Regions from separate parts of the Homo sapiens genome. Here regions 2 and 3 are each linked to region 1. Evidence: fine-mapped expression QTL. A gene starts in region 1. Each other region holds a variant in brackets. All regions are shown on one strand. Distances are between the middles of the regions.

Evidence for each region.
Region 2: its variant is fine-mapped to the expression of CYFIP1 in stomach (GTEx, PIP 0.91).
Region 3: its variant is fine-mapped to the expression of CYFIP1 in whole blood (TOPMed, PIP above 0.99).

What each region holds. Positions count from the first base shown.
Region 1 is chr15:22,976,275-22,984,451 of GRCh38, reverse strand. CYFIP1 (cytoplasmic FMR1 interacting protein 1) reads left to right here and starts at 4,084. Exons shown (of 31, transcript NM_014608.6): 1 at 4,084-4,165. It also overlaps a transcript of TUBGCP5 not described here. RefSeq lists enhancers at 3,819-4,787, 4,788-5,755, 6,885-7,386, 7,387-7,886.
Region 2 is chr15:22,926,081-22,934,257 of GRCh38, reverse strand. It overlaps CYFIP1 (cytoplasmic FMR1 interacting protein 1), which reads left to right. Exons shown (of 31, transcript NM_014608.6): 10 at 365-456; 11 at 1,918-2,035; 12 at 6,230-6,352; 13 at 8,151-8,177. Among named protein-coding and RNA genes, the nearest start is that of CYFIP1, 50 kb to the left of the region's middle. The variant T/C (reference allele first, on the strand shown) is at 4,506.
Region 3 is chr15:22,953,012-22,961,188 of GRCh38, reverse strand. All of the region lies in intron 1 of CYFIP1 (cytoplasmic FMR1 interacting protein 1), which reads left to right. Among named protein-coding and RNA genes, the nearest start is that of CYFIP1, 23 kb to the left of the region's middle. The variant C/T (reference allele first, on the strand shown) is at 4,540.

The sequences.
Region 1 (8,177 bases):
GACAGGGTTTCGCCACGTTGGCCAGGCTGGTCTCGAACTCCTGACCTCAGATGATCTGCACGTCTTGGCCTCCCAAAGTGCTGGGATTACAGGTGTGAGCCACTGTGCCCAGCCAAAAAAGAGTTTTCTTTCTCCATGGAAGTCCTTTAGCATCTTAATTGAAAACCAATTGACCAAATAATGTGTACTTAATTTTCACTATTCTGTTCCATTGCTGTATAGTAGTCTCATTTCTATAGATAATTCTTCATTGGCTGTTTGCCCTTAGGCCCATTTCCAGAGGCTTTAAATGGTTATTTATTTTATTTTATTTTATTTCGTTCTATTTTTTTGAGACAGGGTCATGCTCTGTCGCCCAGCCTGGAGTGCAGTGGCACGATGTCAGCTCACTACAACCTCCAACTCTCGGGTTCAAGTGATTCTCCTGCCTCAGCCTCAGTGGTAGCTGGGACCACAGGCACCGCCTACTATGCCCAGCTAATTTTTGTATTTTGTAGAGAGGGGGTTTTGTCCTGTTGGCCAGGCTGGTCTCGAACCCCTGAGCTCAAGCAATCCACTGCCTCGGCCTCCCAAAGTGCTGGGATTACAGGCATGAGCCACCGCACCTGGCCTAATGGTTGTTTTTAAATAAGCACTGTACTATACTCACCTATTTTCAGACTATGGTTGACCATGAGTAACTGGAACTCAGAGGAGGGGGACTACTAGTACAGTATAATGAGATATTTTGAGAGAGAGACGAACTACATCACTTTTATTATAGTATACCACTACAATTGTTCTATTTTTATTATTGTTAATGTCTTACTGTGTCTAATTTATTTATTTATTTATTTTTAGATGGAATCTCACTCTGTGAGTCTCACTCTATCGCCCAGGCTGGAGTGCAGTGGCACAATCTCAGCTCACTGCAACCTCTGCCTCCAGAGCTCAAGCAATCCGCCCACCTTGACCTCCCAAAATGCTGGGATTACCGACCTGTGTGTACTTTATAAATTAAACTTTATCATAGGCCTGCATATATAGAAAAATATATAGTCTATACAGTGTAGAGTGTGCTACTATCTGTCCTTTCAGACATCCACCAGGGGTCTTGAAGCTTATCCCCCAGAAGATGAGGTGGGAACTACTGTAAATAATTTTGACCCTTTGAAATCTGATGAGACTTGTTTTACTTCCTAACATATGGTATATTTTGTGAATGTTACGTGTTTATTTGAAAACTTTAATTCCTGTCAGTAACAGCTTGAAGTCTTCAGTACAAAGCGTCTGAACATCTTTCATTCCGTACAATGCATTCTGTATTCTGTTTTGTGGAGGTGCCATTTAGGTATAATACGTTAATTACTTAAAAAAAATTTTGTATCTTTACTTCTTTTTGTGTCTGCCTGTCCTATCAATTACTAATAGAGAGAAGTTCAAATCTCTATGAGTGTGTATTCGCCTATTTCTTCTTTTGATTCTATCCATCTTTGTCTAAATATTTCAAAACTTATTTGATGTATATATGCACTAAAAGTTATTTTTTCTTCCTTTTCTTTTGAGACGGAGTTTCACTCTTGTTGCCCAAGCTAGAGTGCAATGGCACGACCTTGGCTCACTGTAACCTCCGCCTCCCGGGTTCAAGTGATTCTCCTGCCTCAACCTCCCAAGTAGCTGGGATTACTGCAACCTTCGCCTCCCAGGTTGAAGCGATTCTCCTGCCTCAACCTCCCGAGTAGCTGGGATTACAGGCATGTGCCACCAGACCTGGCTAATTTTTTGTATTTTTGGTAGAAACAGGGTATGTTAGCCAGGCTGGTCTCGAACTCCTGACCTCAGATGACCTGCCCGCCTCAGCCTCCCAAAGTGTTGGAATTACAGGCGTGAGCCACCATGCCCGGCCTATTTTTTCATACTTAATTGACCCATTTATTTTTATCAAATGTCCTTTTTATCACTGATAGTGCCCCTTGAGTTGAATTCTACTTTGATATTAATATAATCACTCCACCTTTCTGATTAGCATGTCCTTTTGCATCTTTTTAATTTCAGCCTCTTTGTGTCCTTATATTTAAATTATGTCTTTTTTTTTTTTTTTTTTTGAGACCAGGTTTCACTCTTGTTGCTTAGGCTGGAGTTCAATGGCGCAATCTCAGCTAACTGCAACCTCTGCCTCCCGGGTTCAAGCGATTCTCCTGCCTCAGTCTCCTGAGTAGCTGGGATTATAGGCATGTGCCACCACACCCAGCTAATTTTGTATTTTTAGTAAAGACGGGGTTTTGCCATGTGGGTCAGGCTCGTCTTGAACTCCTGACCTCAGTTGATCCACCCGCGTTGGCCTCCGAAAGTGCTGGGATTAACAGGCATGAGTCACTGTGCCCGGCCAAAATTATGTCTTCTTAAAACAGAATATATTTGGGTCTCGTTTTTAATCCAATGTGACAATTTCTGTGTTTTAATCCATTTACAGTTAGTAAACGGATTACATGTTTAGTCCATTTACATTCAATGTGATTACTAATGTGGTTGAAGTCTAACTGCTTGCTCTTTGTCTTTGCCTTATGTGCTTTTTGCTCCTTCCTTCCTGCTTTCTTTTGGATCAAGCATATTTTTGTATTCTATTTTATCTCTTTTCTTGGATTTTTAGCTGTATTATTTTTTATTAATTGCTCTAGGGATTACAATATTTTATTATTTTAAGACGGAGTCTTGCTCTGTCGCCCAGGCCGGAGTGCAGCGACACGATCTTGGCTCACTGCAACCTCCACTTCCTGGGTTCAAGCGATTCTCCTGCCTCGGCCTCCCGAGTAGCTGGGATTACAAGCCCACACCACCATGCCCGACTAATTTTTGTATTTTTAGTAGAGACGGGGTCTTCACCATGTTGGCCAGTGTGGTCTCGAACGCCTGACCTCAGGTGATCCGCCCGCCTCGGACTCCCAAAATGCTGCGATTACAGGCGTGAGCCACTGCGCTCGGCCGGGATTACAATATTTTAAATTATCACAGTATAACTTGAATTTGGGTTCTATCATGTCATCTACAATGTAAAAACCTTTGGAATCTAATTTTGAGACTCCACCCTAGGCACAGAAAAGGAGTAATCTGCTGATTTGAAAATGTGTGGACTGGGAACCAGAATGTTATCCAAAGCCCCTGTTTTGCAGGAATGTGAGAAAGTGATATCCGAATATTGAGTCAACTGGTAGATTGTCTCAATCCGCTGGTCAGGATTCATTTGCTGCTTTTTGCCTTACCGCAGAGCACAAGCGGGGGTAACCAAACCTTCATAATCTAGAGACCAGACTAGAATATCTGATGCCCATCCTTACTGTTCTCCGTAAGAACCAGGGGTCGCGGATGAATGGGGAGTGAGGTTGCTGCGGCTGAGCGGGGCGTTTAGGGCAGTTTTCCTAAACACGCCTGTGACCAGCTGACTCCACTCAGCGTTTCCGTGTGAGGTATGTTTCTTCACCGGCCTTTCAAGATTGTTTTTTGGCACGAGCTCAAATCAGGTTTTCTTCCGTCCGCCGTTCCCGCAGGTCTGCGCACGGATTTGTCCCTGGTTCCCGCAGGCAATGGGGCCGCAGGGGCCGGCCGGGGGGGTCCCCAGCGGGCTCTGCGCGCCGACCTGCAGCTGGGACCCGCGCCTGGAACCCTCCCGACGAGCGCAGGTGAGCGCCTCCTGCCAAGTGGGGCGGCGCCACACGGGCGTCCTGGGTGTCCCCCTGAGCTCCTTCCGCAGCTCAGGCCAACCCCCGCCCTGACCCGGTGGAGCCCCGGGACAGGGTGCGGACCCCGTTCCTTCGCGCTCCGAACCGGACGGACCCGCAGGAGGACCCCACGCCCGCTCCGCTCCGACCCCGCCGTCCCGCGCAGGCTGCGGTGACCCAGGCCGGCAGGTAGCCAGGGGCTCTCTGCCTGGGAGGACACCTTCGGCGGCTGGCGTGGGGAAAGGGGCCGCCCGGCCGGGGATGCCCCGCCAGGAGGAGGGAGCGGCCGGGGCCGCGGCCGGGAGGGAGGAGCGCCGGGAGGAAGAGGCCGAGCCGGGAGAGCCCCCGCCCCGGGAGGAAGGGGAGGAGGCCGAGTGTTTCCTGGCGCATTCCCGGCCAGCCCGAGTGACTCACTCGGCCAAGGAAACTCCCAGGGCCCGCCCAGGACCCCCAAGCCGCCGCGGACGCAGGTGAGGAACCCCGCTCGCCCGCGCCTGCCCTGCGGCCTCCGCGGGGTCCGGGTCCCCCTCGGAACCTGGGCCGGCCAGGGCGGCGGCGGGGCCGGGACGGACCCCCCCCTCCCCCCCAACCCCGGCGGCGCGGCCTCCCCGGCGGCGCGGCCTCCGGGATCGTCCTGGTCCCCGCGTCCCCCAGGTCCCGGCCCCGGGCTCCCGCGCCTCCCGGGCTCCAGGTCCCCGCACTCCCTGCACTGGCTTCCCGGTCCCTGCGCCCCCGGCCTTTCGGCCTCGGCCCCGAGCTCCCCGCCCCCGCGTTCACCGCCTCGCGCCCCCGGATCCCGGATTCCGCGCCCCGGCACATGGCACAGCTCCAGTGGCGAAGGAATACCTTAGTGTTTGACGTTTTTGTTGGAAAGTAAGGAGCAGGCAGATTGTTAATGTTGCACTAAGGTCGCGCAGCAAGATCTGAACCCGTTTTTGTTTCGTGCCCCTGTGAGGAGCGGAGGGAGCCTGGTCCGCGGAGCCATTCCGGGCATTCTTGGAGAGAGGAGTTTTGGGCTTTGTTAAGGAGGCGCGATCGTTACGGAGGCAGCACTGTTTCGCACAAGCATCTGAATTGTGTATTTTAAGGCTGAAATGCGTGAGCTTAATTTGCAGCACATTGTGGGTGTGACAAGAAGGGTGCAAGAATAATCGGGAAACGGGGTTGATGGAACGTGTTTTAAGCTGAGAGGGGCGTCTGGACGGTGTCAGCTCCGCTATTAAGTCCAGTCAGGGAGCGGCTGCTGATTGAGCCCAGCGCCGCGTGGTCGCCGCTGGGGACTGAGGCTCGGGAGCGTTTGTTTTCTGGCGGCGGAGGGCACCGTGGCTGCGCCGGGAGCGGTGGTGTTTCTTGCAGTCGTCCGTCGGACTCCGGAATGAGGCGTGGTCGGAGCCGCGGTGATGCCTGGTGCAGTGCGCACATTGCTATGCTTGACAGCTTGGCGGCAGAGTCCCGGCCAGGCCGGGACCCGCGGGGGCCCCACGCATGCTGCCTTTTCCCTGCGGGTGGCCAGCGGTTTTCCAAGTGATGTCTAGATCTGCAGGCACGGAGCCTGGAAGAACGAGTCACGCTGTGAGTGGGCGCGGGCCGTAGCAGGTGTGCACTCGTAGGGCCAGTAGGGATATAGTGCCGGTGCCCTCACTGCGACCGAGGCGCCCTGGAGTCGTGGCGGAGGACGTTTCCTGCGTTAAGACAGGTGTCTGTGCTGCGCTCAAAGAAAATGTACCCCCTAAGTTTGTGTGTGTGTTTAAATTTATTTTAAACTTTTAGTAAGATTCACTTTTTGGTGTTCAGTTCAGTGAGCTGTAGCAGGTGCATGGACTGTAGTGACTTCCACCGCAGTCAGGATACTCAGGAAGGCAGCCTCTCTCCTCCCCGCTCTTGCAGCCGCCTGTCTGTTCCTCAGTCCTCCTGCTTTGCCCATTCCAGAATGTCACATGTGGGCTTGGAGTCTGGCTTGTTTCGCTTAGCATAAGGCGTTGGAGATTCAGCTATGCTCTGGTTTGTCCCTGAAGAGTAAAGATACAAGGGTCTGAAAAGTGTGGCTCTCGGATACAGCCTGAGAGAGAGACTAAAATGATAAAGTGATGAGAAAAATTACAAAACTATAGTTCATTAAAAACATTAAACAGCATAGAACCGTGTATACTAAAAGTGAAATTCCCTCGGTACTTCTAAGTAGTATAATAGTCTTTTCTGTGCATAAGTAATTTTTTAAATAACATAGTGAGATCATATTGCATATATTATCGTCATACATTTTTCACTTAATGATGTTTGGTTACTTAAAGATCTTAGCAATCTTTACATGTTGATATATATAGTCTGTACACACAGATTTCCCTCAATCTTTTAAATAACCGTATAGTATTCCTTTTTTTTTTTTTTTTTTTTTTTTTTTTTTGTGACAGAGTCTTAACTCTGTGGCCCAGACTGGAGTGCAGTGACGCAAACTCGGCTCGCCACAACCTATGCCTCCTGGGTTCAGGTGGTTCTCCCACCTCAGCCCCCTGAGTAGCTGGGATTACAGGCACGCACCACCACACCCGGCTAATTTTTGTCTTTTTAGTAGAGACGGGGTTTTGCCATGTTGCCCAGGCTGGTCTTGAACTCCTGACCTCAAGTGATCTGCCCGCCTCAGCCTCCCAAAGTGCTGGTATTACAGGCATGAGCCACTGTGCCCGGCCAAATCACTATAGTATTCTGTAGTGTGGATGTTTCATAATTTTATCAGCCTCCTGTTGATTGACATTATAGTTATTTACTGTTTTTCACCACTACAGTCAATGCTTGTGTCTGTATCTTTGTGCACATACTCAAGTTTATAATGCTAAAGGTGACTTTGGGTTTAAATAATAGCTAACATCTCCCTCCCTCCTTTGTTTTCTTTTCTTTTATGTTATGTTATTTTATTTTATTTTTTGTGAGACAGGGTTTTGCTCTTGTTGCCCAGGCTGGAGTGCAATGGTGTGATCTCGGCTCACTGCAACTTCCACCTCCTGGGTTCAAGCAATTCTCCTGCCCCAGCCTTCCGAGTAGCTGGGATTACAGGCGCCTGCCACCACACCCAGCTAATTTTTGTATTTTTAGTAGAGACAGGGTTTTGCCATGTTGGCCAGGCTGGTCTCAAACTCCTGACCTCAGGTGATCCACCCACCTCGGCCTCCCAACGTGCTGGGATTACAGGCGTGAACCACCGCGCCCACCCAAAACATATTTTATAGTGTGAAGTTTTAACTAACATGTCCAAGCTATTCTCATTGTTTTTCCTATTAAAATTTAGCCAACCCTTAGAGGCCATTGATAAAGCATGGATTAATTACACTGACATAATTTAAAAACCTTATTTTAGCCAGTGCAATAGTATCAGACAAAGAAAGAAAAGGCATACAAATTGGAAAGGGAAAATTGTCCCTATTTGCTGACAACATGATTATCTACATAGAAAATCCAGGGAATCTATGAAAAAGCTACTAGAACTAATTAATGAGGTTAGCAAGGTCACAAGATACAAAGTCAACACACAGAAGGCGACCTTATTTTTCTTTTTTTTTTTTGAGACAGAGTTTCATTCTTGTTGCCCAGGCTAGAGTGCAATGGTGCGATCTCGGCCCACCGCAACCTCTGCCTCCCGGGTTCAAGCGATTCTCCTGCCTCAGCCTCCCGAGTAGCTGGGATTACAGGCATGTGCCACCATGTCTGGCTAATTTTGTGTTTTTAGTAGAGATGGGGTTTCTCCGTGTTGGTCAGGCTGGTCTGGAACTCCCAACCTCAGGTGATCCGCCTGCCTCGGCCTCCCAAAGTGCTAGGATTATAGGCGTGAGCCACCGGGCCCGGCCTGGCGACCTTATTTCTGCATACAGCAGTGCCCCTTATCCATGGGGAGATACATGCAAAGTCAACACTATACAAGCTGACCTTATTTCTGTTTACAACAGTCCTTGTTATCCATGGACGATACGTTCCAATGGAAGCCTGAAACCTGAGATAAGACAGAACCCTCCGTGTACTGTGGTTTTTTTCCCTATACATCTATGCCTATGATAAAGCTTAATTTACAAATTAGGCGCAGTAAGAGATTACCAACAATAACTGTTCATAATATAGAATAATTATATACTGAATAAAAGTTATATAAATGTGTTCTCTCTTTCAAAATATCTTTTTGTATGCACTCACCTATTTTTGGAGGGCAGTTGACTGTAGGCAGCTATAACTGGGGAAACAGAAATTGCAGATAATGAAACTACAGGTAAGTGGGGACTACTGTACTAGCAATGTACAATTAGAAAGTTAAATTTGGCTGGGCGTGGTTGCTCACGCCTGTAATCCCAGCACTTTGGGAGGCCGAGGCGGGCGGATCACAAGGGCAGGAGTTCGAGACCAGCCTGGCCAACATAGTGAAACCCTGTCTCTACTAAAAATACAAAAATTAGTTGGGCATGGTGGCGTGCGCCTGTAGTCCCAGCTACTCAGGAGGCT
Region 2 (8,177 bases), 50 kb after region 1:
CCGAGATCACGCCACTGCACTCCAGCCTGGGCGACAGAGCGAGACTCTGTCTCAAAAAAAAAAAAAAAAAAAAAAAAAAAGAAAGAAATGCAGTGATTTTTTTTTTTTTATGACTGTGGATCTAGCAACATGGTAGGTTAATTTTAACATTTGAATAGTTTTTATAGATGTTGGTTTTTAAATTGTATTTTGTTCCTCTCAAAGCGAATGTAGAAGTTACTTATAGTTTTTTTTTTGTAATGAATCATTTGCAGAGGTAGCATTCAAGCCGAAGTAATTATTAGCATTAGTCAGTTTCCTTGTGCTTATGTATTTGGTGACTAAATATACATAATGACTCTATTTTTTTGTTCTTTGAATACAGCAACTCCAGGTGGTTCCGCTATTTGGGGACATGCAAATAGAACTGGCAAGATATATCAAGACCAGCGCCCACTACGAGGAAAATAAATCTCGGTAGGAGGAGAGGAAAGCTGCCTGGTTTGAGCTTTCGGCAGTGTCCTCATTGTGCGGTTTTCAAACATCCTGCTTATTTGTCTAGAGATAACACTGTTAACATTCTCAGCCTGGAATTAAATGTCCAGTATTGCAGCCTTTGCCACATGCGGCTATTTACATTTAAGTTTATTGAAAAATACAATTGAGGCCGGGCGCGGTGGCTCACGCCTGTAATCCCAGCACTTTGGGAGGCCGAGGCGGGCGGATCACGAGGTCAGGAGATCGAGACCATCCTAGCTAACACGGTGAAACCCCGTCTCTACTAAAAATAGAAAAAATTAGCCGGGCGTGGTGGTGGGCGCCTGTAGTCCCAGCTACTTGGGAGGCTGAGGTAGGAGAATGGCATGAACCTGGGAGGCGGAGCTTGCAGTGAGCAGAGATCGCGCCACTGCACTCCAACCTGGGCGACAGAGCAAGACTCCGTCTCAAAAAAAAAAAAAGAAAGAAAAATACAATTGAAATTTTAATTTCCTTACGACAGCCACGTTTGAAATGTTCAATAGTTAGTGGCTACTGTGTTGGACAGCACAGATACAGAACACTTTCATCATCCTAGGGATTCCTATTGGACAGTGCTGGGTGATAGTCTTTATGTTTAAAAAGGTTGTCTTAAAAAAAAAGAAGAGGGTGGGGCGCGGTGGCTCATGCCTGTAATCCCAGCACTTTGGGAGGCCGAGGTGGATGGATCTCTTGAACTCAGGAGTTTGAGACCAGCCTGGGCAACACAGTGAGACCTTGACTGTATGAAAAAATACAAAAATTAGCCGGGCATGGTGGCACACGCCTGTAGTCCCAGCTACTCAGGAGGCTGAGGTGGGAGGATCACTTGAGTAGTCTAGGAGGTGGAGGTTGCAGTGAACCAAGATTGCACCACTGCAGTCCAGCCTGGGCAAGAGAGCAAGACCCTACCTCAAAGAAAAAAAGAAGAGACTGACAGTGTGTCAGATGTGACATCTGCAGACAATGTGGCCCTAAATCCTAAACTGTGTACCATCTTACTCTGTGAAGAACTATAAAGATCCTCAGCACAGTTCCAGATGCTGGCAGGCACTCCTCCCCACTGCAGACTCTACAGAGCCATCTGAGCCTCAGGGGAGGCTTTCATTGACTTTTGCCAAGCACTGTGCCCGTAGCCAACCTGCAGTCACCATTCAGCCATGATTTTGACAAACGAAGTTGCATCTCAGTCTCAGGGGTCAAGAAACCTTTTCAGTAAAGGACACATAACAAGTATTTTAGGCTTTACAGGCCACAGGTGGTCTCCTTCGGATATGCTTCTGTGTTGTTTTTTTAAACAACCCTTTAAAAACATAAAAGCCATTTGTGTGGCTCTGGTGCCAAACAGGCGTCCTGAGCTGCCCCAGTGCTGTGGCCTGCCGGCGCCTCCGCAGGTAACGCGGGTGCTTTCTCTCTGCACAGATGGACGTGCACATCCTCCGGCAGCAGCCCTCAGTACAACATCTGCGAGCAGATGATCCAGATCCGCGAGGACCACATGCGCTTCATTTCGGAGCTGGCGCGCTACAGCAACAGCGAGGTGCGCCCCGCGACCTGGAGCTGCACAGGCACCCGAGGGTCGCCTGTGTGTGTTTGCACCCAAATCTTAGGTTTAATTGCTTTGAAAAACAGTTTACTACCAGATACGATCATATGTCACATAATGACAGGGACAGGTTCTGACAAATGTGTCATTAGGCAGTTTCATCATTGTGGGAACGTCATCGTGTCCTCATGCTAGCCTGGATGGTACAGCCTGTGGCACAGCTAGGCTGCAGGGTACAGCGGATGGCTCCTAGGCCACACACCTATGGAGCACGTTGCTGTGCTGAAGACTCTGGATAGTTGTAACACAATGGTATGTATTTGTGTATCTAAACATATCTAAACATAGAAAAGGTACAGTGAAAAGATGGTATTATAATCTTATGGGACCACCGTTGTATATGCTGTCATTGACCAAATGTGGTGCATGACTGTACTTCAAAAGCACCCATTATAATTGACAAGGCAGTGAAACTAGTGTTCTCTCTGTTCAGCTGTACAAAAAGCTTTTTTTTTTTTTTTTTTTTTTTTCAGAAAAACATTATAGGGATCCCAAGAGAAAGGACAGAGATGAGATAATTAATTGATTAAGTGGCATTTCCTAGTCTAGTACTGTGATTCCAAGCAACTCGAAAGATGGTTGGAGAGAAGGGAGGACACTGGGAAAGGAAAGGGTGATTCTGACCTGGGGCCCCTGTAAGCCTAGAAGGGAAGAAGTCCTGAGGCCAGAGGTGAGCAGGAGCCTCTGGGTGGCTGTCAGAAGACGTCCCAGGGGCATTGGGTCCATGTGTCCAGGAGGTGGGCCTGGAGTTGGGTGCAGAGAACAGGTGCTTTCTCTTTAGTTCCTTCCAGCTTTGCAGCTGGGTTTGCCATGTTGTCATTTTGGCCACTCCCATTCTCCTCACTCACCCAGGTTGACTCCGAGCCAGCACTGCTGGCATGTCTGTGCTGCAAATTGCTGGCAGGGACTGCGGGTTTTAGGGCATATACGCAGGCTGCTTTGCTGAACTGGTTAGTCCCTCAAGGGTCTCAGGAGGACCATTAACCTTAGCGGGGACAACTCTGTGGATGTTGGCCCCACCCACTGCAGGACGATGAGCACCCTGTCCCCCACCCCCCATGGTTACCAGTCATCATCATGTAACCAAACTGACTGACAACCCAGTAGTCCAGGTATGTTGGGGCACCTGCTGCTTCTAACACAGACCCCTGGCAAGCGTTTGGGCATGTCAGACAAGGAGGCTGTCCTGGGTGAGTCAGTGAGTGAGTGGCGAGCGAGTGGGAGGCCTAGGACAGTACTGTGCACTGCTGTGGCCTTTATGAACACTGTGTGCTTAGGCTGTGCTAAATTTTTTAAAAGGCTTTTTCTTTCTTTAATAACGAATTAGCCTTAGCTTACTGTAACTTTTTTACTTTATAAACTTTTTACTTTTAAAAAGAGCTTTTTGGCTTTTGTAACAACACTTTGCTTAAAACACAAACACACTCTATACCTGTGCAAAAATATTTTTTCTTTATCTCCTTATTCTGTAAATTATTTTTCTACCAAAAAGTTTTTGTTTTTTTCCTTTTGAGCTTTTTCGTTAAAAATGAAGACCCAAACACACACATTAGCCTAGGCCTACACGGGGTCAGGATCATCAGGACATCACTAGGCAGTAGGAATTTTTCCACTACGTTAAGATTTTATGGGAGCACCATCATGTGTGTGGTCTTGTTGACTGGAGCATCCTTAGGTGGCATCTGACTGTAATTGTTTCTCTGGCATTGTCTAAGGTAACAAATCAGTTTTTTTCGGAGTACAGTTTTTTTTTTTTTTTTTTTTTTTGGGTGAGACGGAGTCTTGCTGTGTCGCCCAGGCTGGAGTGCAGTGGTGCAATCTCGGCTCACTGCAAGCCAAGGTTCACACCATTCTCCTTCCTCAGCCTCCCGAGTAGCTGGGACTACAGGCACCCACCACTACGCCCGGCTAATTTTTGTGTGTGTGTTTTTTTGTGTTTTTTTTTGTGTGTGTTTTTTGTGTGTTTTTTTAGTAGAGACACTGTTCTAGCCAGGATGGTCTCAATCTCCTGACCTGGTGATCCACCCGTCTCGGCCTCCCAAAGTGCTGGGATTACAGGCATGAGCCACCGCACCCGGCCTCTGAGTACAATTTTAAAGTGATTCGACTTTAGGTTTGTTGATTTTCTTTTTTCTGAAAGCTGAACATCCTGGTGAATGACGCCAGCATAATTTGATTTATGTCATTATGTCATAATCTAGTCTTTTTTTTGTTTGTTTTTGAGGTGGAGTCTTGCTCTGTTGCCCAGGCTGGAGTGCAGTGGCGCGATCTCGGCTCACTGCAAGCTCCGCCTCCCAGGTTCACGCCATTCTCCTGCCTCAGCCTTCTGAGTAGCTGGGACTACAGGCGCCCGCCACCACGCCCGGCTAATTTTTTTGTATTTTTAGTAGAGATGGGGTTTCAC[T/C]GTGTTAGCCAGGATGGTCTTGATCTCCTGACCTCGTGATCCGCCCGTCTCGGCCTCCCAAAGTGCTGGGATTACAGGCGTGAGCCACCGTGCCTGGCCTTTTTTTTTTTTTTTTTTTTTTGAGACAGAGTCTCTCTCTGTTGCCCAGGCTGGAGTGCAATGGTGTGATCTTGGCTCATTGCAACTTCCACCTCCCGGATTCAAGCAATTCTCCTGCCTCAGCCTCCCAAGTAGCTGGGACTACAGGCGCACGCCACCATGCTTAGCTAATTTTTGTATTTTTAGTAGAGACGGGGTTTCACCATGTTGGCCAGGATGATCTCCATCTCTTGACCTTGTGATTCGCCCACCTCAGCCTCCCAGAGTTTTGGGATTACAGGCATGAGCCATTGCACCCGGTCATAATCTAGTCTTAAAAGAGCAATGCCAGCACTACTAATTACAGTGACTAGAAATTGTTTTATGATTTGTTTTGCAGGTGATTTTGCCCTTGAGCTTCTTACTCAGGGTACTTTTTTTTTTTTTTTTGAGATGGAGTTTCGCTCTTGTTGCCCAGGCTGGATGGCGTGTGATGGCGGGATCTTGGCTCACTGCAATCTTCGCCTCCTGGGTTCTAGCAATTCTCCTGCCTCAGCTTCCCGAGTAGCTGAGATTACAGGCATGCAGCACCACGCCCAGCTACTTTTTTATATTTTTGGTAGAGATGGGGTTTCACTATGTTGGCCAGGCTGATCTCGAACTCCTGACCTCAGGCAATCCACCTGCCCCGGCCTCCCAAAGTGCTGGGATTACAGCATGAGCCATCGCACCGGGCCCCTCACTCAGAGGATTTTAAGTCACACCGTGGTGTTTAGAGCTGCTCAGGGTCCTCTCAGTGGTCATGCTGTGAGCTCCATGCAGGTTCCCGCCATTGTTTCATTTTGCTTTTGACTTCTAGGCATTGCATTTCCGATCTCATTTAATTCTGTGTCCTAAATATATAAAATATTTGTGTGGTTCTAATATCACATCTATAAAAAGGTATATTCAAAGAAGCCTGCCTTCTCCACGGTGCCCCTTCCTCCCCATAGGTCACATGTTTAAATTTAGGGGGTGGTTATTTGATAGAAGCAAACCCACGTGACTTGTGTGTTGCCCTTCCCCGGCCTAGTGGAAGTGCGCCAAGCCCACGCGTGTAACAGCCCCGCGCCCAGCCCGCGGTCCCCCAGGCGGTGGCTGTGGCAGCGGCCTGTCCCTTGCTCTGTGCTCTGCAGCACGCCCTTGGCCGCCATTTTCCCGGGAGGAGGGTCCAGCACCCACAGCATTTCTTATTTTCTTTTTATTTATTTATTTATTTATTTATTTATTTATTTATTTATTTATTATTTTTTGAGACGGAGTCTCGCTCTGTCGCCCAGGCTGGAGTGCAGTGGCGCAGTGTCGGCTCACTGCAAGCTCCGCCTCCCGGGCTCACGCCATTCTCCTGCCTCAGCCTCTGAAGTAGCTGGGACTACAGGTGCCCGCCACCATGCCCAGCTAATTTTTTTGTATTTTTCAGTAGAGACGGGGTTTCACCGTTTTAGGATGGTCTGGATCTCCCGACCTTGTGATCCGCCCGCCTTGGCCTCCTGCATTTCTTATTTTCACACGTGTGACTTTGGGGTGGATTCTCATGGTGGATCCCGGGATGGGGGGAGCTGGGTGGGGGCGCTGGTTTCTCACGGGGCCGTGCCCGCCTTGTGCAGGTGGTCACGGGCTCGGGCCGCCAGGAGGCCCAGAAGACGGACGCGGAGTACCGCAAGCTCTTCGACCTGGCGCTGCAGGGCCTGCAGCTGTTGTCGCAGTGGAGCGCGCACGTGATGGAAGTGGTAGGCCCCGTCCCCGACCCCAGCCCCGCTCCAAAGCTGCCTCGGGCACTTTATTCACATTAACTTTTGGTCTTTGGGCTTTTTATCTTTGGCCCTAGAAAGACGAGAATATCTATCAGTAGATATGTTTCCAAGGTGATTTTAAGTACATCTCATTTATGTGTGTAATAAATGAAGGGCCTCCTTTTTAAAAAAAATCTTGATAGAATTAAATTTGTACCATTGTGATTTTCTTTAAGTCGTTCTTTTTTTGAGATAGTCTCACCCTGTCGCTTAGGCTGGAGTGCGGTGGTGCAAACATAAGTCCCTACAGCCTTGACTCCCCACCCCAAGCGATCCTTCTGCCTCAGCCTCCCAAGTTGCTGGGACCACAGGTGTGCACCACGGCTCCCGGCTAATTTTTTTTTTTTTTTTTTTTTTTTGAGACGGAGTTTCGCTCTTGTTGCCCAGGCTGGAGTGCAATGGCGTGATCTCGGCTCACTGCAACCTCTGCCTCCTGGGTTCAAGCGATTCTCCTGCCTCAGCCTCCTGAGTTAGCTGGGATTACAGGCGCCCACCACCACTTCTGGCTAATTTTTTTGTGTTTTTAGTAGAGATGGTATTTCACCATGTTGGCCACACTGGTCTTGAACTCCTGACCTCAGGTGAACTACCCGCCTCAGTCTCCCAAAGTGCTAGGATTACAGGCTTGAGCCACCGCACCTGGCCTAGTTTTTTGTTTTTTGGTTTTTTTTGTACAGACAGTCTCGCCGTGTGGGCCAGGCTGGTCTCAAACTCCTGGCCTCAAGCCATCTGCCTGCCTGGGCCTTCCAAAGTGCTGGGATTACAGGCGTGAGCCACTGTACCTGGCCAAGTCTCATTTTTTCATTTAAATTTTATTTTGCTTTAAATATTTACTTGTATTGATGCATAATAGGGGTACATAGTTTCAGGATACATGTGATAATTTAATACAGTCATACAGTTTGCAAAGATCTAATTGGTGTGCTTGGGATGTCCATCGCCATAAATATTTGTCCTTATGCCAGAAAAATTCGAGTTCTTCCCTATCTATTCTGAAATGTACCATAAATTATTTTAATTAATAGTCACCCTAACTGATCTATCTAACACTGTCTTATTTCTAATATCAGACTGTACATTTGTACCCATTAATGTCGCTTCACGCCCTGCATTTTTAAGATAACATTTTCTCTTTGGAGCTCCAGCCATCAATGTCTTTTGTTGAACATTAGTAAATTATTTCTGGTGCCATATAAAGATTTGGATACCTGTAAGCAATGAAAGATTTTCCCTTTTGTGATTTATTTTGATCACATAAAAATTATCAAATTGGAAGAGTACATGGTCATTTGAAAGGCAAAATCTTTATTTACTTACTTATTATTTTATTTTTTGTAGAGATGAGGCCTCACTATATTGCTCAGGCTGATCTTGAACTCTTGGGCTCAAGTGATCCTCCTGCCTCAACCTCCCAAGTGCTGGGGTCATAGGCATGAGCCACTGTGCCTGGCCCAGAATCCTTTTTAAAATGATGATGAAATGCCAGAGTCTTAGATACTCAGCACTCACTATCCAGGCCATTTTGCCGGGTAGATTTTTTAAACGAGAGGTTACAGGGCCAGGGTCTTTTGCCCATCTGTGGAGATGGACGGTGTGTGCGCCCTCATGTGTGACTTTCAGAATGCAGCAAAGGTTTGAAGGCTGGCCTGGCTTTGGCCACCATCGTGTGAGTCAGACCAGAAGCCAGGCGTTTTGCATGCAATATGGAACACCTCTGCTCTTTCGGCCACCACAGTATTCCTGGAAGCTTGTGCACCCCACC
Region 3 (8,177 bases), 23 kb after region 1:
TTAGCCCGGCATGGTGGCGAGCCCCTGTAATCCCAGCTTCTCGGGAGGCTGAGGCAGGAGAATCACTTGAAGACAGGAGGCGGAGGTTGCAGTGAGTCGAGATCATGCCACTTGCACTCCAGCCTGGGTGACAGTGAGACTCCATCTTAAAAATAAATAAAATATAAATAAATAAATAAATAAATAAATGAAATACAAATTAAAAGAACATTCAGATTAAATTATAAAAACAGAAGTGACCCCTGGATTCTGTTGGGAAGCGCCATGCTACTGTCCGGCTCCACCTTGTTCGTGGGCCCCCGTAGGAGGGCACCTGGCCCAAAGCCACCTGCAGCTTTAGAGACATTGTGTGACCTAAGAAACCTCCTGGGATGTGCTGCTAGGAAAGTCATCTGCAAACACACTCCAGGCTTTTCCGCCCAGATGTGGTATTGTCAGGCTTGTCTCATGCCTAAGCAGGAGGAGGGCGGGCCGCCCTGAAGCAGGCTGCGGTTCATGCATGGGCCAGTGGTGTTTCCTTCACATGTTCTGGATGTGCAGGTGTTGCTGTAATGGTGGAAAAGATTTATATGACCTCAGTGAAAGAGCTGCTTTCTGCTTTTGTTCCTTTGATGGACAGCTAAATGGCCTGGATACCTTTCCCACAGTTTTCGTGAAGACCCGGAGCTTTAAGATCAGGATTCTGGTTTACCTGAGAAGCTCCCCGTTAGGTCCCTGCTCGGTTCACAGTCACTGGGGATGTTCTGTGGCACCGCCTGCTTATGGAGCTCCTGTCTCTGCAGGACGTCTCCGGCAAGGTGCCTGGGACATCCCAGAGCACGAGCCCGCTGAAATGGGGCACCCGAAGGCACAGACCACCCCACTGCGTGGGACCTGTGAGGTGTCTTGGTGCATGTGGAGGAAGCTGGTGAGGTTGATGCTGGTGTTTCCAGCCCAAGTGTCTTGACAGCAGGACCCTTGATAGAGATTGGCGAGTGAGGTGTAGTGTAGGTGGTAGCTAAGGTCATGGGCTTGACCTCAGGCTGGAGGCAGTAGGGGATCCCAGGAGACACTCTGCCCACGGGCTGGGCACAGTGGTGGAGCCCGGGAGACACTCGGCCCACAGGCCAGGCGCAGTAGGGGAGCCTGCAGCTCCTCGTGGGTGCACTTGGTGCAGGAGAAGGGCTGGGCTGCTACTGGGCTATGCCAGACCCTGGCAGGGCCAGGCCACATCCAGGCCAGCCACGTGGGGATTCGGGGATTCAGGTCCTTACAGGGGAGGGAGAGACAGGAAAAGAACAGGCACATCAGGAGGTGTGGATGCTGGGTGAAGATGATCTGGTGGCTGCCGTGTAGCCTTTGGTCATCAACCTGCACCCTCCTGGGCCCTGAGAGGAGAACCTGAGAGGCTGGTGGGGAGGGGGAGCACGGGGCTCGATCGCCCGTGGCGCCTGTTCCTCAGCCGGGCGCCGCAGGACCCAGCAGATACACGGTCTGTTGGGCACAGTGATAAGGTGGGGGACAAGGTGGGTGGCAGCCAGTTCCCTTTCCTTCAAGCCGCAGGAATCAGAGCAGGCTGAGAGCCCCCAGCCAGAATGGCCAGCGGTGGAATTGCTTTGTCAAGCGCCCGAGGTCATGCTTGGTGCCCAGCCGAGCCCATGGCCTCCTGAGCAGGCGGGACTGCCCGGCCATGCGGGCCACGCCACTGAGGCACGTGAGGCAAGCCACGGGGCTGCGGCAGCTCCCTGTCCCTCTGGGCTCAGTGTCGGCATCTGTGAATGGGGACCCCCACTCTTCTCCTGAGCGTGGGAGCGCCCCCTCTGTGGTGTGACTGTCCTCCCGGAGACCGCCATGGTGGGTCTGCCCTAACAGAAAGAGTAGGTGGAGCGGGAAACGCTGTCTTCTTCCCTTTGTGCCTTTTAAACATGCACTGGATTCGGGTGAAAGATGAAGGAATGGCCGTCGTCGAGGAGCACTCCTTAATTGTTTATGCTGTCTGTGTGTTGCCCAGGTGCACACAGGTGGGAAAGAAACAGCCCCTCCCACCAGCCTGATCCCTACCCAACCCAGGCATCTGCCAGGTGGGCTGATGGAGCTTCCCCGAGCTCATCTGTGTGCCTGGTAGCCCAGCCCTGGGCTGAGGTGCATGTTCTCATTGTCCTGAGGGCCCCACCTGGGGCAGTGGGACTGGTGGATGGCACAGCGGGTCCTCCATGGCCCAGGGGTGTGGGAGATGGAGGGAGGCCCTTGGGTGTTCTATGAGCGATTGAGACTTTATTCTGTGGAATACTGGGCCCCATCTCTGCCTTTTATTAATTATTTTAGCATCCGAATAGTTTTTTTCATACAAATTTGACAGATAAAGACAGAACTGCTCTCCCTTGCCCTCCTGGGGCACTCTGGGGTTTCATGGCGCATGGTTTGAAAACCACAGCTGTAGGCAGAGAGAGCCAGTGAAAGCGTGAGCAGGAGAGTGACAGGAAGAGAAGCAGAGGTGAGTGCAGGTTTGGCGGTGCCTGGGGGATCAGAGGGAAGCCTGGGGGAGGGCGATGTTAGGAGGTTGTGAGACCACTTGGTCTTGGGAGACCCCTCCCAGAGGCAGCCTGACCCTGGCCGAAGGGGCTGCAGCCCCAAGGTGGGGGGCGGAGGCCATGTGGCGTGGAGACGTGCTCTCTTTCAGGGTTCCTTGGCACACTGTTTTAGATGTCAGCACCTCATTGTGATTTTCAAACTTGATTTCTGTTTCTCTGTTGATGAGGCTGTTCTTTTGAGCTGGTTTTGAGTGGCCGCTTTTGAGGATGGAATTTGAAGTTTTTGTGCATTAAAGAAAGCAGATTACCTCACACCTGTAATCCCAGCACTTGGAGAGGCCGAGGCAGGCAGATCACCTGAGGTCAGGAGTTCAAAACCAGCCTGACCAACATGGTGAAACCCCGTCTCTATTAGAAATACAAAAATTAGCCAGGTGTGGTGGCGGGTGCCTGTAATCCCAGCTACTTGAGAGGCTGAGGCAGGAAAATTGCTTGAACCTGGGAGGCAGAGGTTGCAGTGAGCCGAGATTGCGCCAGCCCGGGTGACAAGAACGAGACTCCATTTCAAAAAAAAAAAAAAAGCAAATTACTTCAGTAATAAAGCTAGTCTAGAAGATGTTATATTGGTTTTTAACTATGCACTGTTTGCCTTGCTGGTCATGACAGCCTGTTTCTGTGCTGCAGCCGTGCGGTCAGGCCGTTTAACCTGGGGAAAACCAGCTGCAGCCATGCTGGCGCGGTCCCCTGCTTCCAAATACAGAAGAGCACATTCTTTCTACACCTGGGAGAGAAAGGGACAGCAAAGTATGCTTTTCTTCTTCAGATGATTTATTTTATGCCTATTTTACATGAACAGCTTGCACAAAAATATTGGAAGTTTCTACTTTTCTGGGAAGTGCCATCATTTTGCATATAGAAGAGGAAGAAAATCAGCTCATGCCTTGTGCACGTTTGCAGAAACATTTCATAGTTTGTCTTTGTTTGATTATGCTGTTTAGCTGGACAAGTGGAATGCTTACAAGTTGTAACATTTTTTGTTTTTTGAGATGGAGTCTTGCTCTGTCGCCCAGGCTGGAGTGCAGTGACACGATCTCGGCTCACTGCAAGCTCCGCCTCCTGGGTTCACGCCATTCTCCTGCCTCAGCCTCCCTAGTAGCTGGCACTACAGGCGCCCGCCACCATGCCTGGCTAATTTTTTGTATTTTTAGTAGAGGTGGGGTTTCACCGTGTTAGCTAGGATGGTCTTGATCTCCTGACCTCGTGATCCACCTGCCTCGGCCTCCCAAAGTGCTGGGATTACAGGTGTGAGCCACTGCGCCCGGCCAATTTTTTGTATTTTTAGTAGAGATGAGGTTTCACCGTGTTAGCCAGGATTGTCTAGATCTCCTGACCTCGTGATCCGCCTGCCTCGGCCTCCCAGAGTGCTGGGATTACAGGCGTGAGCCACCGTGCCCGGCCACAAGTTGTAAAATTTTTAAATGACTGGTTTAGAAATGCTGGGAAGACCCTCTTTCTAGCAAAGCATCTCTCCACCTGTCTCAGTGCGGGCTGCAGTGGCGGGAGTTAGCGTCGGCGTGCCGCCTGCCACAGCACTGCCGCCTGCGTGGCACCGACGCCTTCGCTTCTGCATTTTCTGGATTGTGGCTTCTCCACATTTTGCAACCTTGGTGTTGAGCTGTCTTGGCAGTTTCTATTTTAACACCTAAAGAGATGACTGTTCGGTCCCTGTGAAAAGCTCCCTCTTGACCTAGGGTGGAAAGAGAAGTAAATACATCTCAAAAGTTTATCCTCTAATGTGGTAAAATACAAGGTCCCTCCGTGGCCAGGGGCTGGCTGGAGCGGGCAGTGCACGTTGTCCCTGTGTGTGCAGCCACCATTCTGCTGTGTGCTCGCTGGCATCTTGGGAGCCTGGGCCCGGCCAGAGTGGCCGCATGCACACTGCTGTCTCGGGGCGGCAGTGGGGCCGTGGGGCCATCTGGATGGTGTGGCCACCCGTTCCCCCTTTACCAGCCCCCACCCTTCCTGGCCA[C/T]CTGCCCCGAGCCTCCCCTGAGATGCCCCGTCTCCAGAGCCCCTGACTTGTTTGACTCCTTTGTTTTGTCTGGTGTCCAAGGCCGGTTTCCCACGGGGCCTGTGTTCTCCCAGGGATGCTGGCTTATTGAAGACACACACACTCACACACATACACACTCACACATACAAACTTTTTTTTTCCTTTTCCCTTTTAATCTCTTGGCACCACCTCTGCTTCCAGGTTAAAGTTAGTCTTGGCTGCTTTAATTTCCATTTGTTTTTGCAGCCTAGTAGTGTCTTTTTTCATTTTCAAGACTGTTGAGTTATGCCAGGACTCAGGGTTATGACCTACTGACTGAGCTGCCTGCTGAGCACGAGAGACATCTCTTTCTTCCCAGCCACCTGCCCTCATGCTGCTCAGACACAGGGAAAAGGACCAAATCATATTTATTTATTTTTTTTGAGACAGAGTCTCACTCTGTCGCCCAGGCTGGAGTGCAGTGGCGCGATCTCAGCTCACTACAACCTCCGCCTCCTGGGTTCAAGTGATTCTCATGCCTCAGTTTCCCAAGTAGCTGGGATTACAGGCACCTACCACCATGCCCAGCTGATTTTTGTATTTTTAGTAGAGGAAGTATTTCGCCATGTTAGCCAGGCTGGTCTCAAACTCCTGACCTCAAGCCTCGGTCTCCCAAAGTGCTGGGATTAGAGAAGTGAGCCACTGTGCCCAGCCCCAAATCACATTTAAAAAAAATTCTGTTGATTCACTGTTCTTTGTTTTGAAGCATGTGATGATTGTGAGGTTTTACAAAAATCACCCTCCCATCTCCTGGGATGTCTGCTGTGTGGAGAAGTGAGGTCCAGGGTCTCTCTGGGAACTGGGTTCCCCAAGGGCAGCATGGGGAGGCACTGGCTGATGCCCTGAGCCCGTGAGCTTGCAGGGGGAGTGTGGCGAGGGCTGGCCACATCTAGATGGGTTAAAGACCAGGAGCCTGGGCGGATCTGCCCGTTTTCTAGTTGGTGGAAGCACTGGTGCATGCCTCCTTTGCCTTTGCCCCTTGGCCTGCTGTCTCCAACTTTCTCCAGCATCTTCAGGGCTCTGCTGGGGCCAGCAGGGTCCTTGACCCTGCTCCCCTGCCTCCCCAGCCCCTGCTGCCTGCCCACGCCGGGGCAACTCTGTCTGTGGCTCCAGCTCCATGCTGCCTCTGTCCTGCCCCTCAGGCCTAAATCGGTCTCCAGCACCTCACTCGCACTTGGAAAGTGGCCATCTGTACCTCTGTGCCTCTGGCCTTGACCCCCTGGGTGGGCACCCGGCACTGGGTCAGGGCGGTTCTCAACCTTGCTCTGTGGCTGTGGGCCCTGGGGCAGCTGGCGACCCCATCCAGCCTCCCTCCACTCATTTGCCAATGTGTCAGGGTGGCCTCCACCTTAAGGCAGCTGTGAGGACCACTTCTTGAGACTGCATCTGTGTGGATCTGAGGCTGAGGGGCAGCCAGTGACATGTGGAAGAAAGGAGGTGGACCCATGGAGCCCCCAGCATGCCCTGTAGGCACTGCCCTTCAAGTGGGTGGCACTGGGAACCTTTGCCTCCTGCCCACCGTGGGTCCCTTGAAGCCCATCTGGGGTTCCACGATCCAGCAGGTGAGTGAGGTGTGCAGCATGATGTGAGCTCAGACACGGAGCCAGTCTGCCACCGCCCGGTGGATGTTGCTCACTCTGTAAACTGCCCTGCAGCTGCCTAGAGCAGAGGTGCATCCCGACCCATGAGACACTCAGAGATTGACCCGGGACTCTGAGGACATCACTGGAAGAGCAGCCAAGTATGATGATGTCCTCCTTTGAAATCTTTATTTTTAAAAACTCTTAAATTTACAAAATAAACGAACTGATGGCTTATTAAAACAGCAGTTCCCCTACCATATTTAAATTCATTTTTATATCTTGACAAGCTATAGGATTTGGAATCAAACATGAGGGTTGAGAACTGCTGCTGATAGAAAATCAGTCAGGGAAGGAAAAAACATCTCTTTATGTTGTTCAATGACATAAACCGAGGGTGGGCATGTTATTTTTGGGTCGGTTCGCCGCCTGGGGAGGCCGGGGGCACAGGCAGCTGGAACTGTGGCATGGTAGCGCCTTGTGACCGAGCTCATGCAGGTCTGGCTGGCTTGTTTTGTTCCCAGCAGTGTGCTCTTTCTGCATGGAGCACGTATTATTTTCATGATCAGCAAAATACCAGCTCGTGTGGGTTCTTACCTGGCAGACAGCGCAGGGAATCTGCGTCCCACCTGGGTGACTCCGTCCTACCTGTTCTTGGCTCTGTGTTCATTTGCCAGGGCTACCATTAACAAAACACCACAGATCAGGCAGGAATTTCTTTCTCTCAGTTCTGGAGCTGGGAGTCTGAGATCAGGGGGCCAGCAGGGTTGGCCTCTCTTGTGAATGGCCACCTTCTCTCTGTGTCCTCTCGTGGTCTTCCCTCTGTGCCTGGTCACGCATTGCCCTGCTCTGATCAGGCCCCAAGCAGTGGACATCAATGTACCTGTCCACACGAGCTGAAGGAGCAGAGACAGAAATGCGATCCTATTGTTTTTGTTTTTGTTTTTGTTTTTTTGAGACAGTCTTCGCTCTGTCACCCAGGCTGGAGTGCAGTGGCGCGATCTTGGCTCACTGCAAGCTCCGCCTCCCGGGTTCACGCCATTTTCCTGCCTCAGCCTCCCGAGTAGCTGGGACTACAGGCGCCCGCCACCACGCCTGGCTAATTTTTTTGTATTTTTAATAGAGACGGAGTTTCACTGTATTAGCCAGGATGGTCTCGATCTCCTGACTTCGTGATCCACCCGCCTCGGCCTCCCAAAGTGCTGGGATTACAGGCGTGAGCCACTGCACCAGGCCCTGATCCTATTGTTAAACTCTAAAGTGCTGGCTAGTAGCACCGGCAGAACAGTTTGTATGCCGTTCCAAATACGTGACTTTAATTATGCTGTTGGATATTTGCACTGTGGCAGCCACTTATAAAGGCTGGTCAGATACAACTGAGGCTCCATTCCAAGGGCAGTGGACACTGGCTTTGCAGTGACCAGGCCAGACCTGGTGCTGCTGCCTGGGAATGGGGGCTTCTTAGACACAGAAGGAGACTAGAGGCTGTGCTGGATGCTGGTGCTGGGGGAAAATCCCTGTGGGACGTGGCATTCATGGGAGGACAAAAGGAGGGCCGGAAAAAATCCCAGGGTGCAGGCGGCTGGAGTCACGCATTGCCTTTGTTCTCTAGCAGTGGGGTGCAGGGTCCGCTGGTGGCAGTTAGAGACGGAGCAAAGTAAATGCACTTGAAAGAGCTTTGGGAGGTGGAACTGTGAGGAGTCAGAGAACAAGATGGGATGAGACATGAGCTCTGATGTGCCTGTGTGGAGTGGACACCGCCAGGGCCCCCACGCTGGCTCTGTAGGTGGCACCCAGGCCAGACCCTGCACCCACGCTGCCAGGGCTGAGACCTTGGAGACTTGGATTTAGAGCTGATTACTCCAAGTCCGCCTAACAGGGTGAGGCAGAAGCTGTGCAGATTCGCATCTATGGAAGATGCACGGACGGAGAGCCCTTGGAAGCGGGCCGGGCCCAGGCCGTGTGCGTGCGGTGACAGCTGCTTGGCATCACACACCA